Homo sapiens: one gene and its partners. Each later gene encodes a partner of the first gene's protein in a complex. Each region holds a gene or a part of one and is shown in the gene's direction. Other genes may lie near its edges.

The links.
Region 2: OBSL1 (region 1) and CCDC8 share a complex: the UniProt entries of both Homo sapiens proteins name them as parts of the 3M complex.
Region 3: the proteins of OBSL1 (region 1) and MYOM1 are in contact, whole or in part, in a crystal structure (PDB 5FM5), measured with the Homo sapiens proteins. Residues at the interface, in NP_056126.1 of Homo sapiens: Pro243, Lys253, Phe255, Val257, Asn258, Gly260, Lys261, His262, Ala263, Lys264, Phe265, Arg266, Cys267, Tyr268, Val269, Met270, Gly271, Lys272, Pro273, Pro275, Trp279, Lys305, Tyr308, Tyr317, Cys319, Ala321, Arg322, Asn323, Ser324, Ala325; in NP_003794.3 of Homo sapiens: Arg616, Pro617, Ser618, Ala619, Pro620, Trp621, Thr622, Gly623, Gln624, Ile625, Ile626, Val627, Thr628, Glu629, Glu630, Glu631, Pro632.

What each region holds. Positions count from the first base shown.
Region 1 is NC_000002.12:219,549,484-219,555,273, reverse strand, and holds the end of OBSL1 (obscurin-like protein 1 isoform 1 precursor), read left to right. Parts: exon of another isoform or gene 1-125; intron 126-533; coding exon 534-800; intron 801-1,587; coding exon 1,588-1,700; intron 1,701-2,249; coding exon 2,250-2,406; intron 2,407-2,576; coding exon 2,577-2,738; intron 2,739-3,057; coding exon 3,058-3,162; intron 3,163-3,475; coding exon 3,476-3,745; intron 3,746-3,988; coding exon of another isoform or gene 3,989-4,032; exon of another isoform or gene 4,033-4,405; coding exon of another isoform or gene 4,406-4,431; coding exon 4,432-4,439; coding exon of another isoform or gene 4,440-4,449; 3' UTR 4,450-4,546; downstream 4,547-5,790. Other genes in the region: TMEM198 (transmembrane protein 198), read right to left, coding at 5,420-5,557. UniProt on the Homo sapiens protein: Core component of the 3M complex, a complex required to regulate microtubule dynamics and genome integrity. It is unclear how the 3M complex regulates microtubules, it could act by controlling the level of a microtubule stabilizer.
Region 2 is NC_000019.10:46,410,565-46,418,727, reverse strand, and holds the start of CCDC8 (coiled-coil domain-containing protein 8), read left to right. Parts: upstream 1-5,163; 5' UTR 5,164-5,917; coding exon 5,918-7,534; 3' UTR 7,535-8,163. UniProt on the Homo sapiens protein: Core component of the 3M complex, a complex required to regulate microtubule dynamics and genome integrity. It is unclear how the 3M complex regulates microtubules, it could act by controlling the level of a microtubule stabilizer.
Region 3 is NC_000018.10:3,209,969-3,217,707, reverse strand, and holds part of MYOM1 (myomesin-1), read left to right. Parts: intron 1-2,456; coding exon of another isoform or gene 2,457-2,484; coding exon 2,485-2,774; intron 2,775-7,739. UniProt on the Homo sapiens protein: Major component of the vertebrate myofibrillar M band. Binds myosin, titin, and light meromyosin. This binding is dose dependent.

The sequences.
Region 1 (5,790 bases):
AACATTAACTGAGATAACATGAAAATTCTTACACAGAGCTTGGTGAATGGTTGTCATTTGTGACACATCTCTTCTAACTTATTTCATTCAAGAAATCATCACAATAAACCTGTGTCCCAATGTTATTCACCTTGTACAGCTGGGGCAACTGGGGTCCAGAGAGGTCAGGCCATTTGCCAAAGATCACATAGCACACAAACTATGTGGTAGAGCGAGGTTCCATTCCTAGTGTGTCTGACTCCAAATTCCGTGCTCCTTCAAGTGTCACAGCACCCCTCACCCAGACTCCACGACCCCCTAACCACACTTCTCCCCCTTCCTGTGCCCTCATCTCCTAACCCTGATACAGCCCTCCCCCCGCCAAATCTGTCCACCGTGCTCCTTTCTTCCTGCACCCTGGTTCCGAACTTTTTTGGTCAGGACCTTAGGTTGGGTGTTCAGGGGTGTAGGCAGGGCCAAGGGATGAGGATTGACTGCAACCCCTGCCCAGAGCTGGAGGCCTCATCCTCCCTCTCTCCATCTCCCCCGGCCAGCGAGGCAGCTGAGGGTGCTGCGGCCTCTGGAGGACGTGACCATCAGTGAGGGGGGCAGTGCCACCTTCCAGCTGGAGCTGTCCCAGGAAGGTGTGACCGGGGAGTGGGCCCGGGGTGGAGTACAGCTGTATCCAGGACCCAAGTGTCACATCCACTCGGACGGCCACCGTCACCGACTGGTACTCAATGGCCTGGGCCTGGCCGACTCAGGCTGTGTCTCCTTCACAGCGGATTCCCTGCGCTGCGCAGCCAGACTCATTGTGAGAGGTGTGGCCTCCAGGACCACAGCCTGCCTGCTGACCTGTGTGGCCCTACTTACCCCAGGCATGAATACTGACCCCCAACTCGTGTGACCCCCACTGACCATGCCTGTCTCAGTGTGGCCCTCATTGACATCCCTGCCAGAGTGTGATCCCCCTGACTCATAGGCCCTGTGTGGCCCCAGAGTCCTCTGCCTGGGTGTGGCCCCTGACTGCCCAAGGCTCAGCCAACCACTGACTCTGCTACCAAGAGCATGCCTTTGCCATTGTGGTCACTGCTGTCTGCCCGCCTGCACACCACCCCACTGACCACTCTAACTGTGACCCTACTGGCTACACTGTCTGCCGTGGCTCCCTCTGCCCGCCTAAGTGTGGGCCCCGTGACCACTCCAGTCCCTTGAATCCACTGACTGCCTACGGGCGACATCACTAGCAAGTCTGCTTGAGTGTCCCCCATTTTTACTTCCAGTCCCAGGATGTTCCCACTGACCACTCCACTGGCATCTCTGCTTGTTTCCCCATTGCCCTCTGGCCCCCAGCTTCTCCCCCACTGACCACCTTAAAGTGTGACTCCCAGTTGGCCACTCCTAACCCATTGGCCCTGTGGCCCTGCCCACCTACATCCCCCCCACCCCCACCACTGACAGATCCTTCTTGGACCACTTGTCCCAGCTCGAACCCCACTCGCTAGTGTCCTCTACTGCCTGTTGTGCCCAAGTGTATGTCCTCCTTGTCCCTGCAAGATGGGTCCCCATCCTGCTCCCTCTGCACTGTCCTCCCTCTCCCACCCCCAGAGGTCCCAGTGACCATCGTGCGGGGGCCACACGACCTAGAGGTGACCGAGGGCGACACAGCTACGTTCGAGTGCGAGCTTTCCCAAGCTTTGGCTGATGTTACCTGGGAGAAGGTCAGATCCCAGCCCCAGCCAAGCCCACTTCAGTGTAACACCAACGATAATAATGCCCCAGACAGAAACAGCTAATATTCCTTGAGCGGATGTGCCTGGCACTGTGCTAAGATTTGCATTATATTTAATCCCTTACTCCAAGGACAACTCTAGGAGGTAGGTCTTGTCACTGTAATACCTATCAGGAAACTGATGCTCAGTGGGAAAAATTACCTACCCAAGGGCAGACAACAGGTAGAGCCCATATTCGAATCCAGGTTTGCCTAACTCCAGAATCCGTGCCCATGTCCCCTGTGATCGATACCTGGCTCTGGGCTTCCCGAGTGCCTTGGCGGCCCTAAGGTCCCCAAAGGGTGACGCTTTTTCAAAGAGGCTCCTGGCACGACCCCAAAGGCTTGGGGACAGTCCGACCCCAGCCTGGGAACACGAGACACGCATAAACGCGCCTCGAGACCGCTTGGCATCAACAAAGGGTGCGCCGCCTGCCAGGGCCGGGGTCGCCTGTGCCCAGCCGGGCTCGCCCCGACCCTCTGCAACTCCCGCCCCTAGGACGGGAACGCGCTTACGCCTAGCCCGCGGCTCCGGCTCCAGGCCCTCGGCACGCGCCGCCTTCTCCAGCTGCGACGCTGCGGCCCCTCGGACGCCGGGACCTACAGCTGCGCGGTGGGGACGGCCCGCGCCGGACCGGTCCGCCTGACCGTGCGCGGTGGGTACGGGGTGATGTGGAGGCTGGGCACTGCTTTGGGCGCGAGACTTGCGGAGCTGTCTTCCCCGGACCCTGATGACCGCGCGTGCTTCTAGAAAGGGGGCGTGGAGGGGGCGTGACCGGTAACTGCCCTCTGCCCCGCCCCGCTCACGCCCCGGGCTCCGCCCCAGAGCGTACTGTGGCGGTACTCTCCGAGCTGCGGTCGGTGAGCGCCCGCGAAGGCGACGGCGCTACGTTCGAGTGCACCGTGTCGGAGGTCGAGACCACGGGGCGCTGGGAGCTCGGAGGCCGCCCGCTGAGACCCGGAGCCCGCGTCCGCATCCGACAGGAAGGTCTGCCCGCCTGGTTACCCTTTCGGGCCCCTCGCTGCCCCGCCCAGGCTCGAACAGATCCCGCCCCACCGGGACAAGCCCCGCCCCTGGCTCCGACGGGCCCCGCCCCACGGCCCTGTGAGCCTCGTCCCTGTTCTTTCCCCCGCCCCCAGCCCCTAGTCCCGGACCTCTAGGCTTCCCGCTCCGCATCCCTGTTCCGCCCACCCTAGCATACACTAACGGCGTCCGAACCGACCCAGGGGCCTGCTGGGCCCCCACCTTCGTCCCCAACGCTCCTCAGAGGTGGCTCCGGCCTCGCTAGCGACCCCCTCACCCCCAGGGAAGAAACACATTCTGGTGCTTAGCGAGCTGCGCGCCGAGGACGCCGGTGAAGTCCGCTTCCAGGCGGGGCCCGCCCAGTCCCTGGCTCTACTGGAAGTGGAGGGTAAGCACCTGGGGTGGGAGCGACAGAGAGTGTACATCCTGTCTCTCCTGCCATGGGACTGACGGACTTGGGGCTGGCCCCAAGAACGCTGCCTCTCTCTTCCCTTCCCCCCGAGGGGCTCTCCTGGGCCGGGTCACAGAGGGCAGCGCGTTTCCCCGGCAAGAGGAGACTTTGGGTCTGAGGTGCAAGGGAACGGACTGGTGGCATAGAGGGCTAAGGCCAGGAGTGGAGACTTCAGGGAGGGAAGATGCATCTCTCCTCCTGGGGGCCATGCGTGTCCCTATTAACTTAAGCCCCCGCCCCCTACCCCCAGCATTGCCTCTCCAGATGTGCCGCCACCCCCCTCGCGAGAAGACCGTTCTGGTGGGCCGCCGGGCGGTGCTGGAGGTGACTGTGTCCCGCTCGGGGGGCCACGTGTGCTGGCTGCGGGAGGGGGCCGAGCTGTGCCCGGGAGATAAGTATGAGATGCGCAGCCACGGCCCCACCCACAGCCTGGTCATCCATGACGTTCGACCTGAGGACCAAGGCACTTACTGCTGCCAGGCCGGCCAGGACAGCACCCACACACGGCTGCTGGTAGAGGGTGAGTAAAGCCAACTGGGCAGCGGCAGGAGGGTGAGGGCGCCTGGGAGCTGATGGGTTAAGCCACACCTATGGGAGGCTTTCCAGAACTTGGGGTGGCAACGGGTCCTGGGATACGTAGGAGGTGGGGATGGGGGAGGGGAGGGGTAGAGCACACCCAGGGCTGGAAAGCCCTGGAACTGCTTGGCTCAGATCAGCTGCTCCTGGTCAGCTGTTCCCACCTTTCTACGCCCCTTCTTGCCAGGCTTCTCCTCTCTCCTGCCACTGGACCATGTTTGTCTCTCTTGAACAGCCCTGTTTCTACCAGTTCCTTTCCTCCCCACTTCACCAACACTGCCTTCCTCCAGCCTGTCCCTCCTCCTTCCTGCCCTCTGCCCAGCTTGCCTCTGCCCATCTCAGCAAGTTCCATGTCAGCCTTGGCAGAAGCCTCTTTCTTTCCTCTTCCCCATAAGAGACATCCCACCTTCTATCCCAAATCCCAGCATTCCCTTCAGGTGCCGCGCTGTGCCCCACCCCTAGCTGACCCCCACCTTCCTGCCGCCAAGACAGCCCTAACCAAGGCCCAGAAAGGGTAGGGCAGAACCTGGGGGCCCAGCTCTTTGTGTACTGGTGTCCAGGCTCTGCCAGGGGAGAGGAAGGTGGTACCCCCTTCTCTCCCCAGCCCCATGTGGAGTCATTCCTCTGCAGGCAACTAGGAGAACCTAACCAGGCCAGGCGGGTGCCCTTGGACAGCTTGGAAGGCGTTTGCCCTTACCCTGGGCAGGGGTAGAGAGACAAGGAACAATAAAAGTGCTACAGCTCATTTCCTTGCCTCTCTGAGTGATGTGGGGGGGCAGACCTTGCCTGGAGCCCCTGTGCAGTGAGCGACACTGGGGACCGAGGGCTGTAGTGCTTGTACCTGGCCCATGAAAGTGCCAGCCACCAAAGACCACCATTCCTGGCAGAGGCCACACAGTTTGGCACATTTATAAAAGATGTAAAACAGAGTGGGGTGGGGGAGACAGAAGCATGAGGTGTCTAGGTTGGCATGACAGACACCAGACATGCACCGTGCATTTAAACCCCTCCCCAACTCCCTTCCCAACCCAGCCCAGAGCAGCACCCCCCCACCCCCATCTCCTGCCACTGCCCTCAGGCTGGTGGCTTTACAGAGGCCAGGGGACCAGGGTGAGGGATGCTACAGTTTGCCCCATAGACAAGGACAAGAACCCTTAGATGAGTCTGGCTGCGAGGCAGGGCGATGGGAAGGAAGGTAGCCCCTCCGCGGAGACATGCAGGAGGTGGCCCATGGGACCTTGGCAGGGAGTGAAGAGGTGGGGCTGAGCCTGGAGAAACCCTACCAGTCAGAAATCTAAGGCAAGGGTCCCAGCGTCCCCTCCAAGCCTGCCCACCCCCACACACATACACACAGACACACGGGCAACACACTCACAACCCTGAGCACACCCCAATGGGGTTCACACCCCGAGTTCCTCAGGAGCCTCTTGGGAGCTTGGGAGGGGGCTTTCCTCTCAGGCCAAGACTCGCCTGAGACAATCCTCCCTTCTAGTGACCAGGCCAGCCCTCTCCAGGCTGGGGAGAGGGACAGCCAAAGCCAGGAGGCTGAGTGGCAGCCTAGCAGGCCTCCTCGAGCTGGCAGAGCTGGTGACTGCAGAGTCTAGACAGACAGATATGGCTATACCCGCACTGGGGGGCCTGAGCAGGCTGTCAGAGGTCCCCGGGACCCATACTCATAGTCCGCATCTGTGGGTGAGGCCATGAAGGAGCTCAGGGAGCTCCCGGTCTGCCGGTCTCGGAAGCTCTGGATATAGCTCTGTGGGGGAGCAAACATAGGTGTGAGTCCCACCGCAGAATCCTGCCCTAAAAGCCACCTCTTCCTGAATTCCCACAAGCCTGACACTTCTATAGACTGCCATAGACCCAGAGTCCACAGCCCTGAGACCCCACCACATACCATATCCCACTTAAAACCCATACTCAGGAACCTTTCCCCCAATTCCCCCACCAGCTGGACCCGCCAAGCCCCTGGTGCATGGGCTCCGATGC
Region 2 (8,163 bases), on another chromosome or scaffold:
GAGCATCAGTTGAGGCCAGGAGTTCAAGACCGGTCTGGGCAACATAATGAGAATACCTCTCTACAAAAAATTTTTAAAAATAGCCAGGCATGGTGGCACACACCTGTAGCCCCAGACACTCAGAAGGCTGAGGTGGGAGGATTGCTTGAGCCCAGGATTTCGAGGTTACAGTGAGCCATGATCATGCCACTGCACTTCAGCCTGGGTGACAGAGTGAGACCCTGTCTCAAAGAAAAAAAAAAACAAAAACAGAAAGTGGTAAGTGCTGTGATGAAAATAATTTAGGATGATGGGGGAAAAAAATCTCTGTGAGATAAATTCTAAAATTAACATAAAAAAAAAAGCCAGGTGAAGTGGCTCACGCCTGTAATCCCAGCACTTTGGGAGGCCAAGGTGGGTGGATCACCTGAGGTTCGAGATCGAGACCACCCTGATCAACATGGAGACATCCCGTCTCTACTAAAAATACAAAATTAGCTGGGTGGGTTGGCCTGTAATCCCAGCTGCTCTGGAGGCTGAGGCGGGAGAATTGCTTGAACGCGGGAGGTGGAGGTTGTGGTGAGTCGGAGATCGCGCCATTGCACTCTAGCCTGGGCAATAAGAGCAAAACTCCGTCTCAAAAAAAAAAAAATAAATTAATAAAATAAAATAAAATTAACACATACACTAATGCAAGCATTTTTTCTCTGGAAAAATACAGAGATATTTAACTGGTTACTTTTTGGGGAGAGGCTGGAAGGTGGGGTTTGGGGAGAAGAATCCTTTTTTGAAAAAAATTTACCTTTCTGTAACTTTTGCTTTTTCTGACCGTGTATCCTTTTTTGAGACAGGGTGTTACTCTGTTGCCCAAGCTGGAGTACAGTGGCACCACCTCAGCTCACTGCAACCTGTGCCTCCCAGGTTCAAGCGATTCTCCTGCCTCAGCCTCCCTAGTAGCTGAGATTACGGGCGCCTGCCATCGTGCCCAGCTAATTTTTGTACTTTTAGTAGAGACGGTGGGGTTTCATCATATTGGCCAGGCTGGTCTCGAACTCCTGACTTCAGGCGATCGCCCGCGTAGGCCTCCCAAATTGCTTGGATTACAAGCTTGAGCCACTGCCCCTGGCCCGCGTGTCCCATTTTTTTTTTAAATGGCAACAAAATGTAGCTGGGTAGAGGGATTTCAGCCGTGTTTTGTTTCTCTTCCCCATTCTTTTCCAACTTTCCATTTATTTTAAACAAATGCAAAAGTGAGGCTACAGTTCTCGTTTTTATTATTTTATTCTGTGATGGCTGGAGAAGGGTCTCACCTGCCAGAGATCTGTGCAATTAAAAACACCCACAGCTGAACCGTTCAGGGGCTGGCAATTTTTTTTTTTTTTGAGATGGAGTCTCGCTCTGTTGCCCAGGCTGGCGTGCAGATGGGCGATCTCCGCTTCCTGCAGCCCTGACCTCCCGGGCTCAAGCGATAGGCCCACCTCAGTCTCCCGAGTAGCTCAGACCACAGGCGCACACCATAATATTCGGCTAATTTTTAAATTTTTTGTGGAGACCGGAGTCTCGCTATGTTGCCCAGGCTGGTCTCCAATTCCTGGGCTCAAGCGATCCTCCTGCCTTGGCTTCCCAAAGTGCTGGGATTACAGGCATGAGTCACCGCCCCCGGCCGGAGGTTGACGATTTTTGCAAAAATATGGAACATTTGGGATTTTCATTTCTTAGATTATCCTCCTTGCGCCGCTCCCTGCTCCCCCACCAAATAAAAAAAGAAAAACAAACAAAAAACAAAACAAACAAACAAAACGAAAGCCCTTTTATGACTACAAAACCCAAACGTCTCATCTGCGAGGTCACCACTTGGAAGGCACTGTCATGAGCCCTCAGACTTGCGATTCTTTAATCAGCATTCCTGAAACCTAGGTGTCCTTAGGATTTTTCATTTTTTGGTTTCTACAAACAGCTTTTCAGGGAAGCTGGCTTTGGGGATGAGGCCTAAGGGAGGCACCAGGGGCAGAAAAGAGGAGCTCCTGCCCTCGTCCTCCGTGGCGCCCCCACCCCCACCATCTCCCTGCAGCCTCGCCTCCGCCTCCGCCCCACCCGCTTAGTTTTGATCCGCGCGGAGGAGCGCGTCCCGTGGTTGCCATGGAGACCGCCGGACTGCGGAGGCCACAAACTGTGCGAAGGGGGAGGCGAGGGGCGGGGCCGCGGGAGGCCCGGGGGCTGAGCGCGGCGGCTGGGACTGAGCCAGGGAGAAAGAGGAGAAAAATCCAGCGAAGCCCAACGACCTGGCTCTGCAAGAGAAAAACAACCTGAATAAGCCGGTAATTGTGAACAGGCCGCTCGCTGAGACCTTAACGTCCCCTAAGCCCCCACATCTTTTCTTTCCCTCTGGCCCGTCTCTTTTTCCTCCGTTCCCTCTTTAAAAATTTGCCTGGTTCCTTTATGAGTTAAATAAGATCACATTTATTTATTTATTTGAGACGGAGTCTCGCTCTGTCGCCCAAGGTGGAGGGCAGTGGCGCGATCTTGGCTCACTGCAACCTCCGCCTCCCAGTTCAAGCGATTCTTCTGCCTCAGCCTCCCCAGTAGCTGGGATTACAGGCATGTGTCACCATGCCCGGCTAATTCTTATATTTTTGTTCGTTTCTTTTTTTTGTTTGTTTGTTTTTGAGACGGAGTTTCGCTCTTGTTGCCCAGGCTGGAGTGCAATGGCACGGTCTCAGCTCACTGCAACCTCTGAATCCCGGATTCAAACGATTCTCCTGCCTGAGCCTCCGGAGTAGCTGGGATTACAGGCATGCGCCACCAAGACAGGCTAGTTTTGTAGTTTTAGTAGAGGCGGGGTTTCACCATGTTGGCCAGGCTGGTCTCAAACTTCTGACCTCAGGTGATCCACCCGCTTCAGCCTCCCAAAATGCTGGGATTACAAGCGTGAGCCACCGCGCCCGGCAATTTTTGTATTTTTTAGTAGAGATGGGGTTTTGCCATGTTGACCAGGCTGGTCTCAAACTCCGGACCTCAGGTGATCCGCCCGCCTCAGCCTCCCAAAGTGCTGGATTAAAGGCGTGAGCCACGGCGCCCAGCCTGAGATGGAGAATTTTCAAAAGAGTAGAGACAGATCGGACCTAAGTTTTTAAAAGATGCCCCCAGCTTCTGGATGGGGCCTGGATTGCAAGCAGTGATGGGGAGGCGGGAAGCCCAGTGAGGGGGCTTTGTACACATCCAGGCAAGAGTGGCTGCAAGTATTGTGGCTGCTAAGTGGTTAAATGGTGCAACACATTTAGGAGAAGGGGATTAGCTGTGTCTTTAGCGTCAGCTAGTGTTTTAAATGCTAGTGCCCAAGATCTGGTTCTAATATTATATTAGATCCACCACTCAGAGCTGTGCAACTTCAGACCAGCCTCAGTTTCACCGTCTGTAAAAAGATGATTGATGGCACTGGCCTTACCATGTACCTCTGAGGGTTCCTAACAACGAGGCCTATTCAACATGTCTCTGGATGCCTGGTTCCAAAGATGTGGACCAATGCTAGTCGCATGTCCTGTAGCAGGAGGAGCCACGGACAAAACCCCTCAGACACTGGGTTAAGGAAGGATTTGGCTTTTTCGGCCGGGAGCTTCGGCAGACTCGCCTCTCAACTGGCGGGAGCTTCGGTAGACTCGCGTCTCAAGAACCGAGCTCCCGGCCGAATGCGACTAGCATTGGTTCACATCTTGATTCTTTTTTTTCTTTCTTTCTTTCTTTTTTTTTTTTTGAGACGGAGTCTTGCTCTGTCGTCCAGGCTGGAGTGCAGTGGTGCGATCGCGGCTCACTGCAACCTCCGCCTCCCGGGTTCAAGAGATTCTTCTGCCTCAGCCTCCCGAGTAGCTGGGACTACAGGCACGTACCACCACGCGCGGCTAATTTTTTTGCATTTTTAGTAGAGACAGGGTTTCACCGCGTTAGCCAGGATGGTCTTGTCTTGATCTCCTGACCTCGTGATCTGCCCGCCTCAGCCTCCCAAAGGGCTGGGATTACAGGCGTGAGCCACCGCGCCTGGCCATCTTGACTCTTTGGTCGACACAAAAGGCAGACTATTCTGGATTCAAATCCAAACTCAACCACTCCCCATGGCTGTGACCTTGAGAGTGTGGTTTTATGTCCTTGGGCCTCAGTTTCCTCAGCTGTCTAATGGGAATTGTACTCATGCTACCAGTCTCCTGTTATAGCAAGGATTTCCTGAGTTCATTCATAGAAAGCACTGGGAATGGTGCCTACTACATAGGAAGCGCCTCATAAACCGTGCCTATCCTTAGCCATCTCATTCTTTTTTCGAAGTTGCAAAATATTTCACTGTAAGATACTACCATAAAATAGAGGCAGTCTCTACTCGTGAACTTTTAGGGTTTTTTGTTGTTGTTTATTTGTAGGGGTTTTTTTGCACTTTTGTTTTTTTGAGACAGTCTCCCTCTGTTGCGCAGGCCGGAGTGCAGTGGCGCGATCTCTGCAACCTCCACCTCCCAGGTTCACGCCATTCTCCTGCCTCAGCCTCTCGCGTAGCTTGGGACTACGCACGCGCACCACCACACCCGGGGTAGAGACGAGGGTTTCACCATGTTGGGCAGGCTGGTCTCGAACTCCTGGCCTCAAGTGTTCCACCCACCTGGGCCTCCCAAAGTGCTGGCATTACAGGCATGAGCCACCGCGCCTGGCCATGAACATTTGGGTTTATTCATCCCCTCAAAAATATGTATTGAGCCCTGACCTGCCAAGCGCCACAGTGGGACTGTTGCAGTCAGGTACCCATTTCTCTACCCACGCATATAGGTGTACGGGTACCGATAGTCGCGTGAATTTAAAATGCTAATCTGTGGTGCCAGTGGCTCTCAAAAAGTAGAATCCACTAGCACACCCACCTCCCGGACTTGGCTGGAAACTTGCACATTTCGGATGGCAGGTTTGGGAACCGCTGCCTTTCAGGAAAGGTGCTGACGTGGGCCACTGCCGCTTCGCTGGGAAGCAATGGGCCCAGCTAGGCCCGGGGCGCGGCCACACCCCTGTGGGGGAGGGGAAGGAGGCCGCCCCGAAGGGAGTGGACAGCCCCCCTGTCAGTCTTCCAGAGTCTGGGAGTGTAAGATGAGACGGGGGAAGGTGGGCCTCATTCTGGCGGAGGGCGAGGAGGAACTTCCTGCCCGCGCGCTCCACGGTGCAGAGCTCTAAGCGCGCGGGCTGGCAGGCTGCGGCGCGTCAAGGTCAGCCTGGAGCTGGGTGGCGGCCTGCCTGGGGGCGGGGGACCCTACTGGAGGCCCGGGCTGGGGCCTCCCAGCGCCTCGGCCATATTGAATAGCTTCGACTGGACCGTCTTTGTCTGCGAAGTCCTGTCCCAAGTTCCAGCCGCGTCCCTGGGGCCTGGGGCAGGAAGAGTCGCTGGCAGCCCGCGCGCCCCAACTTGGAGCTGGGACACCACGTTTCCAGCTTGGAGTGGGCCTTGAGCCTTGGGACTGACCTCGCCCCCGGCTCACGTAGGCATCCTGGAAATTGATTCCCCCAAGTCCTTGGTGGGGGAGCCGGACTTGGTCAAGACTGTACTTGTTGCAGGCGAAGAGATTGGAGGCGTTTGGCTCGTCCCTGGCTAGGGAGGTGAGACTCTCCGGTCAGCGTTGCTGGAACTCCCCCCATCCAGTCCCTCCCTCAAGACTAAGGGCTACAGTAGTTTGTTGGGGCTCATTGCCCCCTCACCCCAGATATCACCCTGGAGATCTTAAAGACTCTCGAGAAAAGCCACGTGGGGGGCTGGTTCCCCTGGGGCTTCCTGCCGTCCCCCGACTGCCTCATTCTTTGGAGCGTCCCCGATGTCTGCAAAGATGTGGATTTGGACGTCCTCGTGGAAGCCCTAAAGCCCGTGGGGACATTTAAGAAGATCGGCAAGGTGTTCCGCAAGGAGGAGGACTCCACGGTGGGGATGCTGCAGATCGGGGAGGACGTCGACTATTTGCTCATCCCCCGGGAGGTCAGGCTGGCTGGGGGCGTCTGGAGAGTCATCTCTAAGCCCGCCACCAAGGAAGCAGAATTTCGGGAGCGGCTGACCCAGTTCCTGGAAGAAGAGGGCCGCACCCTGGAGGACGTGGCCCGCATCATGGAGAAGAGCACCCCGCACCCGCCCCAGCCCCCCAAAAAGCCCAAGGAGCCCCGAGTGAGGAGGAGAGTGCAGCAGATGGTGACTCCTCCGCCCCGGCTGGTCGTGGGCACGTACGACAGCAGCAACGCCAGCGACAGCGAGTTCAGCGACTTCGAGACCTCCAGAGACAAGAGCCGCCAGGGCCCGCGGCGGGGCAAGAAGGTGCGCAAAATGCCCGTCAGCTACCTGGGCAGCAAGTTCCTGGGAAGCGACCTGGAGAGTGAGGATGATGAGGAACTGGTCGAGGCCTTCCTCCGGCGACAGGAGAAGCAGCCCAGCGCGCCGCCTGCCCGCCGCCGCGTCAACCTGCCAGTGCCCATGTTTGAGGACAACCTGGGGCCTCAGCTGTCCAAAGCGGACAGGTGGCGGGAGTATGTCAGCCAGGTGTCCTGGGGGAAGCTGAAGCGGAGGGTGAAGGGTTGGGCGCCGAGGGCGGGCCCCGGGGTGGGCGAGGCCCGGCTGGCCTCCACCGCAGTGGAGAGCGCAGGGGTATCATCGGCGCCAGAGGGCACCAGCCCGGGGGATCGCTTGGGAAACGCGGGAGATGTTTGTGTGCCCCAGGCTTCCCCTAGGCGATGGAGGCCCAAGATCAACTGGGCCTCCTTTCGGCGCCGCAGGAAGGAGCAGACAGCACCCACAGGTCAGGGGGCAGACATCGAGGCTGATCAGGGGGGAGAGGCTGCAGATAGTCAAAGGGAAGAGGCCATAGCTGACCAGCGGGAAGGGGCTGCAGGTAATCAGAGGGCAGGGGCCCCAGCTGACCAGGGGGCAGAGGCTGCAGATAATCAGAGGGAAGAGGCTGCAGATAATCAGAGGGCAGGGGCCCCAGCTGAGGAGGGGGCAGAGGCTGCAGATAACCAGAGGGAAGAGGCTGCAGATAATCAGAGGGCAGAGGCCCCAGCTGACCAGAGGTCACAGGGCACAGATAACCACAGGGAAGAGGCTGCAGATAATCAGAGGGCGGAGGCCCCAGCTGACCAGGGGTCAGAGGTTACAGATAATCAAAGGGAAGAGGCCGTACATGACCAGAGGGAAAGGGCCCCAGCTGTCCAGGGTGCAGATAATCAGAGGGCACAGGCCCGGGCTGGCCAGAGGGCAGAGGCTGCACATAATCAGAGGGCAGGGGCCCCAGGTATCCAGGAAGCTGAAGTCTCAGCTGCCCAAGGGACCACAGGAACAGCTCCAGGAGCCAGGGCCCGGAAACAGGTCAAGACAGTGAGGTTCCAGACCCCTGGACGCTTTTCGTGGTTTTGCAAGCGCCGGAGAGCCTTCTGGCACACTCCCCGGTTGCCAACCCTGCCCAAGAGAGTCCCCAGGGCAGGAGAGGCCAGGAACCTCAGGGTGCTGAGGGCCGAGGCCAGAGCAGAAGCTGAGCAGGGAGAGCAAGAAGACCAGCTGTGAGGTGAGGGCTAGAGACAGCCCACGGGCCCTCCCTCCAAGTGTGGGAGGGAGAGATGCTCTGCCTCTGAACTTCAAAGTGGAGGTGGAGTGCTGGCCACGTCTCCACCTAACAACCCTCTTTATTCTCTTGTTAAAGTTTTGTTCATGCTTTGATTTTTTTTTAAATTTTTTAGAGACAGGGTCTCACTCTGTTGCCCAGGCTGGAGTGCAGTGGCATGATCATAACTCACTGCAGCCTCAAACTTCTGGCCTCAAGTGATCCTCCTGCCTCGGCCTCCCAAAATGCTGGGATTACAGATGTGAGCCACCACACACACCATCTGATTAAAAAAAAAAAATACTGATTCCTTGTAGCAACCCAAAAAATGTAAAGAAAGAATTCGACACAATGGGGTTGCGTCACCTATAGTTTTCATTTCCTCAAATGCAACTCAAGGTGCTCAGCTTGATAAAGGGAGAGAGGGAGGGCAGGGGAGAAACTGACTCCTTTTTCCATCTCTTTTTTGCCTGCACACTTAATGTGGACTGCCTCCTTGGACTTAAAAAGAGTTGAGCCAACATGCAAATCAAAAAACATTTATGAACTGATTTCTTAGCTTTGGACTTGACAACTGACGAATGCTCTGGGG
Region 3 (7,739 bases), on another chromosome or scaffold:
CCTGTAATTTCCTTTTCTGTGTATAATGGTCCTCATCTGTTTTCTTTTAGGACTTTCTTTTCCGTGTACAATGGTTCTCACCTATTTTCTTGGCTTTCGATACCACCTATATGCTGTTGACTCCCAAATGTATATCTGCATCCTGGACCTCTCTCCTGCACTCCAGAGTCATGTATCCAGCTTCCCACTTAAAATGTCTCCTCTGGGAGGTCTAACAGGCATCTCAGATGTAGAGCATTGAAACCAATCTCCTGTTCTTCCACCCCAAACTGATACTTTCCCACATTCCTCCCCATCTCAGTTAATAGCAACTTGTCTTTCAATTGCTCAGGCAAAAACCTTGGAGTCATCTCTTTCTTTCACATCCTAATTCAGAACTTTCAGCAAATGCCATTGGTTCTAACTTCAAAAGCTGTGCAGAGCTTGACCACCTCTCACACTTTCGCTGCTACCCCTGTCACCTCTAGCCTGGACCATTGCAGTGGACTTTGTATTCTTTTGCCCGGGCTATCATAGCTAAGCGCCATGGACTGGGTGGCTTAAACAACAGAAACTTATTACCTTACAACTCTGGAGGCTGGAAGTCCAAGATCAAGGTGTCAGCTGGGTGGTTTCTTCTCAGGTCTCTTCTCGGCTCATGGATGGCTGTCTTCTCCCTGTGTCTCCACGTGGCCTTCCCTCTGTTATATACATATTTGGATCTTGGTTTTCTTTTCCTATAGAGACACCATCATATAGAATTACGGCCCATCCTAATGGCCTAATTTTAACTCAACTTCCTCTTTAAGGACCCTATCTCCAAATATGGTCACATGTTGAGGTACTGGAGGTTAGGGCTTCAACACAGGAATTTTGAGAGGATACAACTCAGCCCTTTCATAGGTCTTCTGGCTTTCACTCTCATCCCTCCACAGTCCATCTTCAGACATCGGCGAGAATGAGTCTCAGCTCAGAGTCTTCCAATGGCCTCTCAGCCCTTTCACAGTATTAGCTGAAGTCCTTACTGCTACCTACAGGACCCTACACTACTGGCCCTTCCACCAGGCACATAGCTCACCTCTTTGACATCATCTCCTATACCTCTCCCATCCCAGAACCCCTGCCAATCAGTGGTTCCTGGAGCACAATAGTCATGTTCATTCCTCAGTGCCTTTGCTCTGGTCTTCCTTCTGGAATACTCTTCCCCAGAAAGTCTCATGCTCAGATGTTACTGTCTAGAGAAGCCATCCCTGCTGAGGCTGTTGAAAATTGCATCCATCCCTCTTACCTGCTTTGTTTTTCTCTGGTTCTTGGCACATTAACCTATCTCATACTTGACTTACTTGTTTTCTCTATTGTCTTTCTCCTGCAGTAGACTGTACAGTTCTGTACAAGGTAATTAGAGCAGGCATTTTGTCTGTTTTGTTTACCACTGTATTTCTTTTTTGTTTTGTTTCATTGTGAGACAGAGTCTTTCTCTGTTGCCCAGTATGGAGTGCAGTGGCGCAACCTCGGCTCACTGCAAACTCCGCCTCTGAGTTCAAGTGATTCTCCTGCCTCAGCCACCGGAGTAGCTGGGACTACAGGTGCCCACCACCATGCCAGGCTAATTTTTGTATTTTTAGTAGAGATGGGGTTTCGCCATGTTGGCCGGGCTGGTCTTGAACTCCTGACCTCAAGTGATCCGCCTGCCTCGGCCTCCCAAAGTGCTGGGATTACAGGCGTGACCCACTGTGCCCGGCCTCACTACTGGATTTCATGGGCTGGATGGCGTCAGGCACACAGTAGGTGCTGCTAATTATTTGTTGAATGAACACCACATGACTCTCTATCCTTCCACATTCTCCCAAATGAAGTCCCAAATGAAGAATGAAATGGCAGAAAATTAGAAATATGTATTATGAAGAGTCTGAGGAAAGAGCACAATAGCCAGGGTAGAAAAACTTTGTTTTTCTAGGAAAACCTCCTAGATACAATTTTTTTTAAAAAAAGGTACAATGACAGGAGGGGCATATCTGGGCTATGAAGTGGAGAGTTTTTTGAATATCCAGTTATGTTAAACTTCATACCCTTTTTGGTTTACTCTTCGGAAAAGATAAGAATATTAATTTTTATTTTATTTTGTTTTTAGACAGTGTCTTGCTCTGTCACCCAAGCTGAGTGCAATGGTCAATCATAGCTCCCTGCAGCCTCGAAGTCTTGGGCTCAAGCAATCCTCCTGCCTCAGCCTCCGGAGTAGCTGGGACTACAGACACACACACCACACCCGGCTAATTTTTTCTTTTTGTAGAGATAGGGTCTCACTGTGTTGGCCAGGTTGATTTTGAGCTCCCGGCCTCGAGAGATCCTCGTTGGGATTTCAAGCATGAACCACCGCACCCAGCCAAGAGTATTGATTTTTACACATTGATTTAGATGACTTGGTCTATGGAATTTGTTCCTTAATAAGTCACTCAAAAAGTGTTGTTTTCCTTCAGGTGGCCCGGTTCCTTCAAGGGGCACAGGATGTCTTTGCCTTTTTATCAGAGGTGCCACCAGCACTATGATCTCAGCTACCGCAACAAGGACGTGCGCAGCACCGTGAGTCACTACCAGCGGGAGAAGAAACGCTCCGCCGTCTACACCCAGGGCTCCACGGCCTACAGCAGCCGCTCCTCCGCCGCGCACCGCCGGGAGTCCGAGGCCTTCCGTCGGGCGTCCGCCTCCTCCTCCCAGCAGCAGGCCTCGCAGCACGCCCTGAGCTCTGAAGTCAGTCGGAAGGCAGCCTCAGCCTACGATTATGGCTCCTCCCATGGGTATGTCGGACGCCCTCCTCCAACCTTCCAACCTCAGGAAGAGGCGTGTGCTCTGAGTAACCCTCCCAGTTACTTCTCGCTTTGTTTCGGTTCGGTTTTGGTTTTTTGAGACAGAGTTTCGCTCTTGTTGCCCAGGCTGGAGTGCAATGGCGTGATCTCGGCTCCCTGCAACCTCTGCTGCCTCCTGGGTTCAATCGATTCTCCTGCCTCCGCCTCCCGAGTAGCTGGGATTACAGGCGTGCACCACCACGCCCGGCTCATGTCGTGTTTTTAGTGGAGACAGGGTTTCACCATGTTGGCTAGGCTGGTTTTGAGCCCCTGACCTCAGGTGTTCCACCCGCCTGGGCCTCTCAAAGTGCTAGGATTACAGGCGTGAGCCACCGTGCCCAGCCTCTCCCAGTTACTTCTTAAATACGGCAGCCCTGCATTTCAACCAAGTGTGCAGACAGACCTTGTTTGGGAGACCCGGGACCCGTGCCTACCTATTTCCCTTTATTGTCTCTTTTAGCTTCACTAAGAGCCTGGTGTTCTCACGGGCGAGTCTTGCTTGTGTTGCCAATTTGCTATTTCTAAGAGCAGGCAAATTTTGCCACAGGTTACTTTAGCAGCAGCAGGGCGAGAAAAGATCATTTCAGTATTCACAGCGGGTTTCCTTGCGCTCAGAATGTTTCTGCCTAGATGAGAAGCTGATATATACAATTTAAAATTCACAGGGCACAGGAGACTGAACTACTGCGAAGATATATTCTATTAAATATTTTTTCAATATCTAATAGCAAATACTTAAAATTCGGAACTACTATTTATGCAGCAGATAATTTCTTTAGCTCGACCATTTGATAAAAACATGGCCCTATCTCAGTCAGTCTAAGAATAATAGGAACCAACCTGTATTCCGACAAAATTAGGTTTATTGACCCAATGCAATGAAGGAGACTAAACACTAGAGGAAAAAAGGTTATTTTAGGTTTCTAGGAAGAGTGGAGCTTAGACGCAGGTCTGGTCTGCAAAGTGAACCCAGGGTGCTATTTCTTTGGAAACAATAAAGTTAAGATAAATGTGGACTGTTGCATCCCCAAGCCCCTTATCTGGGACTTCTCACCAGAAGTGGGAATTGAGGTTGCTTCTCTGCTTCAATTAAGCAACTAAGATCCTGCAGGCAAGAGTGAGATGTTTTATTCTTACTGATATAATTTTAAACAGCAAGCTCACTGATTGTCTTTGATATTAGAGAAGAAAGTTTCTCAGTGAATCTATAGTCACTCAAAGAAGGACGTTACCATGACACTTTACAACAGCAACGTCCCTGGGAGAAATGTCATTTCCTGTTCACTTTGCAGTTGGCTTATCTGTGTCTGCTGTTTCAGCCTGATGAATGTTGGGCAGATATTTACTTTCTCAGTCCAAGGCAAGTTTTATTTTCTTCATATTCAGAATGAAATATTTCATGGAGATTAAAAAACACTTGCAAGATACACGTGACTTTTATTTAAAATCTATCTAGAGTCCACAGAAAAAAACTGCTGATCTTCAAAACATAGACATTTCTGGGCTATGTGGTCGATAACCACCTGCTGCCTCTTTTCCTCTTCTCCAAAGTACCTGGCATAGGTTGCATTTTTTGCTATAAACATAACATACTTTTCAGTCTTACAAAATTTAAGCCCACAAAATATCTGGTAGGGCAACTAGAAAAGCTGTTTTCTCTGGGAATCTAAAAAGTTATTGAGAAAATAATAGAGTGGTCGGTTTAACTAGAAGTGAGGCATGCTTCCAAAGGCAGAAATTCCGAAATCCCTGTTGGGTTTGAGCAGCACCTGATCTACAGCTATCATTTTATCAGTGATGGTGGCCTCCTGGGAGCTTCTGCTGGGTTGAGTAACAGAGCCAGACTCTGCTGGGGTTTACCTGGAGTGTATGATGGCAACACTCTGAAATTCCATTAAAATGGAACAGGATCACTTCGCAGTCTCAATTTCATAGGTCATATTCTGCCGTGGGATATTCATAAGGATCACACATTGGCTGCAGATAGGGAAATACTGTCACTGAGGTGAATTCATTTCTTTTAGCACTTGCCTCAGACGAACTGCTTCCAAATAAAAGCTGGGAGGAATTAATACCATATGTATATGACAGCCTCAATTTGTTTCCCTGAAAAACGTTCTGCAGATATGCTTAAGAACCTCATTTAGGAAAGCACATGTAATAGAGAAAGATTACATTTTAAATATCCATTTTCCTGGACTGTTTGTGCTAGGTTTATAGAAGATGGGCATTTTCATTATAAGGCAGTTGTCAATGTAACTCCTTGTGTACTTATTTCATTTCCCCAGTGCTGTAGAATCTAGAGTTTTATGAATTTGTATTTTTAAAGGATCTTTATTTTCTCAACTCTATTGCAAAATTTTATATTAAAATTATCTTAATTTTATACAAATCCTTCTTTTAGCCACATATGCAATCTTTATATTTATTCATAGTCTGATATATCATTAATAATTAAACCTTTGAGCAAATTTTATTGTGAAAACATTTGCTCTATATAATCCTCGGAAGACTTATCCATTTTGGCCATAAAGAGCCTTAGATAATAAACTTTCTCTAGGGAATGGAACTGTAATTATTTTTCTGTGTTCAAACTCATTACTTTTTCCTTCCTACTATGTATATATTTTTGTAGGTAGGTATTTATTATGGCTTGTTATGTTTGAACAACTTAAACTTTTTGGTAGAAGCATGCTGACCTAGAAACAAGAGGAGGGAAAATGCCAATATGTTTTCCTTTGAATAATTCAATGTGAAAGGCAAAGAAAGCCAACTCAATCCTGAAGGTATTTTAGTCTTTCTTTTTTTAGACCTAGAACACAGGTGCAGATAATATTTTTTGAACACTTCAAAGTCTTCATAATTCCTTTAGGTTGTATTTTAGCTTGCTCAAAATGAAGCAACTTTTTCCTGCTAAATGAAAGCATTCTCTTTGGATTGTGAACAGTGTTGTTGATTAAAACCCCTGGGGTTGGAAATGCATCTCTGTGGAGTGTAAGTGCTCGGCTTGGTCTATTTTTAGCTCTGCTTTGTAGTTAGATGTCCAGGGTTAAAGTGGAAACTATGGAGAGTTACATGTGCTCAGGGCTTGGCTGACCTTAGTGAGTCTTAGGAACAATGACTAGTTTACTGTCAGTGCGCTTGCAGTACAGATCAGTTACCAATTGTGTTCTGAGCCACGAGCTATAAAGTAAATTCTGGATGGCTTACTCTAAATGCCTTTGTTCTTGGTCACAGTGGGAAAAATAAAGAAAATAATTTAGGAAAACAAACTCTTAAAATGACAGATTACTGTTTCATGCTAATAATAACAAAATATCATCAGGATTAAAGGAGCAGTATTACTTATGACCATGTTGCAACCATTAGGCAAGGGTTCTTAACCTCTGTCCATGAATGGTTTCAGTAGAGTCTTGGATGATCTGAAATTATATGCAAAATTATGCACAGATGAGAATTTTTCTGGAGAGAGGGACTGTAGTTTTCATCGGATTTTCAAGGAGCTCCGTGACTCAACAAAGGTCAGAACCATTGCTCTAGAAAGTCTAAAAATGAATAACAGAGAGTCTAGTGTATGACCTGAGGACCTCTTTCCTAATGCCAATGTTATAAGGACTTGGGATGAAATAAGGCAGATGTTTACAGAAAAGGTGGTATTATGGAAAGCAGGGACCTTCCATTCTTGCAAGTAAGCTGGATCATACATTAGGATGAAAATAATTTAAAAAGAATGTTTTCTTATTCTTCTAAGTAGAGTGAATAACTTACAAGAATGAATAGCTTACAAAAACCAGAGAACAGCACAGCAGGTTTCTTAGGTTGTGGGATGATTTAGAGTTGTTCCTCAACCTTCCATGGTGACAGTAGACATTTAGTTGTCTTATTCTAAACAGATTAAAATTCAGCCTATATGACGTAATTCAGCATTGCATTCTCTATACCACTGAGTCTTTACAACAACCCTGAGCAGTAGAAATTTTTATCTTCATTTTATAAATGAGAAAATTGGAAACCAAGGAGATTAAATGACTTTTCTTCATTACACTAGAAAGTAGCAGAGTAGTTATTTGAACCCTCGTCATACCCAGGTCCCCACCCTTTCCACGGGCACCCAATGCCAGTTACAGTCAGCAACTCCCCTTGATCATACACCACCGGGTTTTCCTTGAAGCATCAATATGTAGTTTTTGCATTGTGCTTCCTTTGATTTAGCCTTCTTCTAGAGAAGCTATTGAATACCAAAATAACCAAGATTTACAGCAGGGAACAGCAGATGGAAGGACACAAATTCTAACAAAGAAAACCCAAGGAGTGTCCATGAATGCCAAGCCTGGGACCTTACAGACACTTTAACCCACTATTTAGAATCAGACATAGATATTTGCAAAGGACTCTAAGAGAGCAGTTTGGGGATGAAAACACTGAGGCTTGAGTGACTTTCCCTGGGCACCCTAACTTTAAACCATGCCCCTCACCTACCCCTATGTCACATTGATCAACCACCCCCACTCCCACGTGTCACCCAGATTATAACCTCTTGAAACTACTAGAGTTGGTGAAGACCACACTAACATTCAAAGCTGTTATAATTCAGACAAAAGATACCAATGCTAAAAATAGAGACGACCAAACACAGCAGAGAGTGCAGAGAACTTGAAAGCTTGTTCCATCTCCTACCCCAATATCCTTTCAAAATGTGTTACCAAAGAAATCTGCCTTGTGGACACTTTTGTGTCCTAACCTCAGCTATGAGCTGTAGATTCATGTCATTTTCTACATATCTATTTCTGTAAAATGAGGAAAATGACTGTCCCTCATGTTGTGAGGTCGAAAAGAGATAATCATGTAAGATGTTGAGTGTGGTGGCTGGCACAGGGGGAACACCCAGTGAGGTTTAGGCATTATGAGTCATTCATT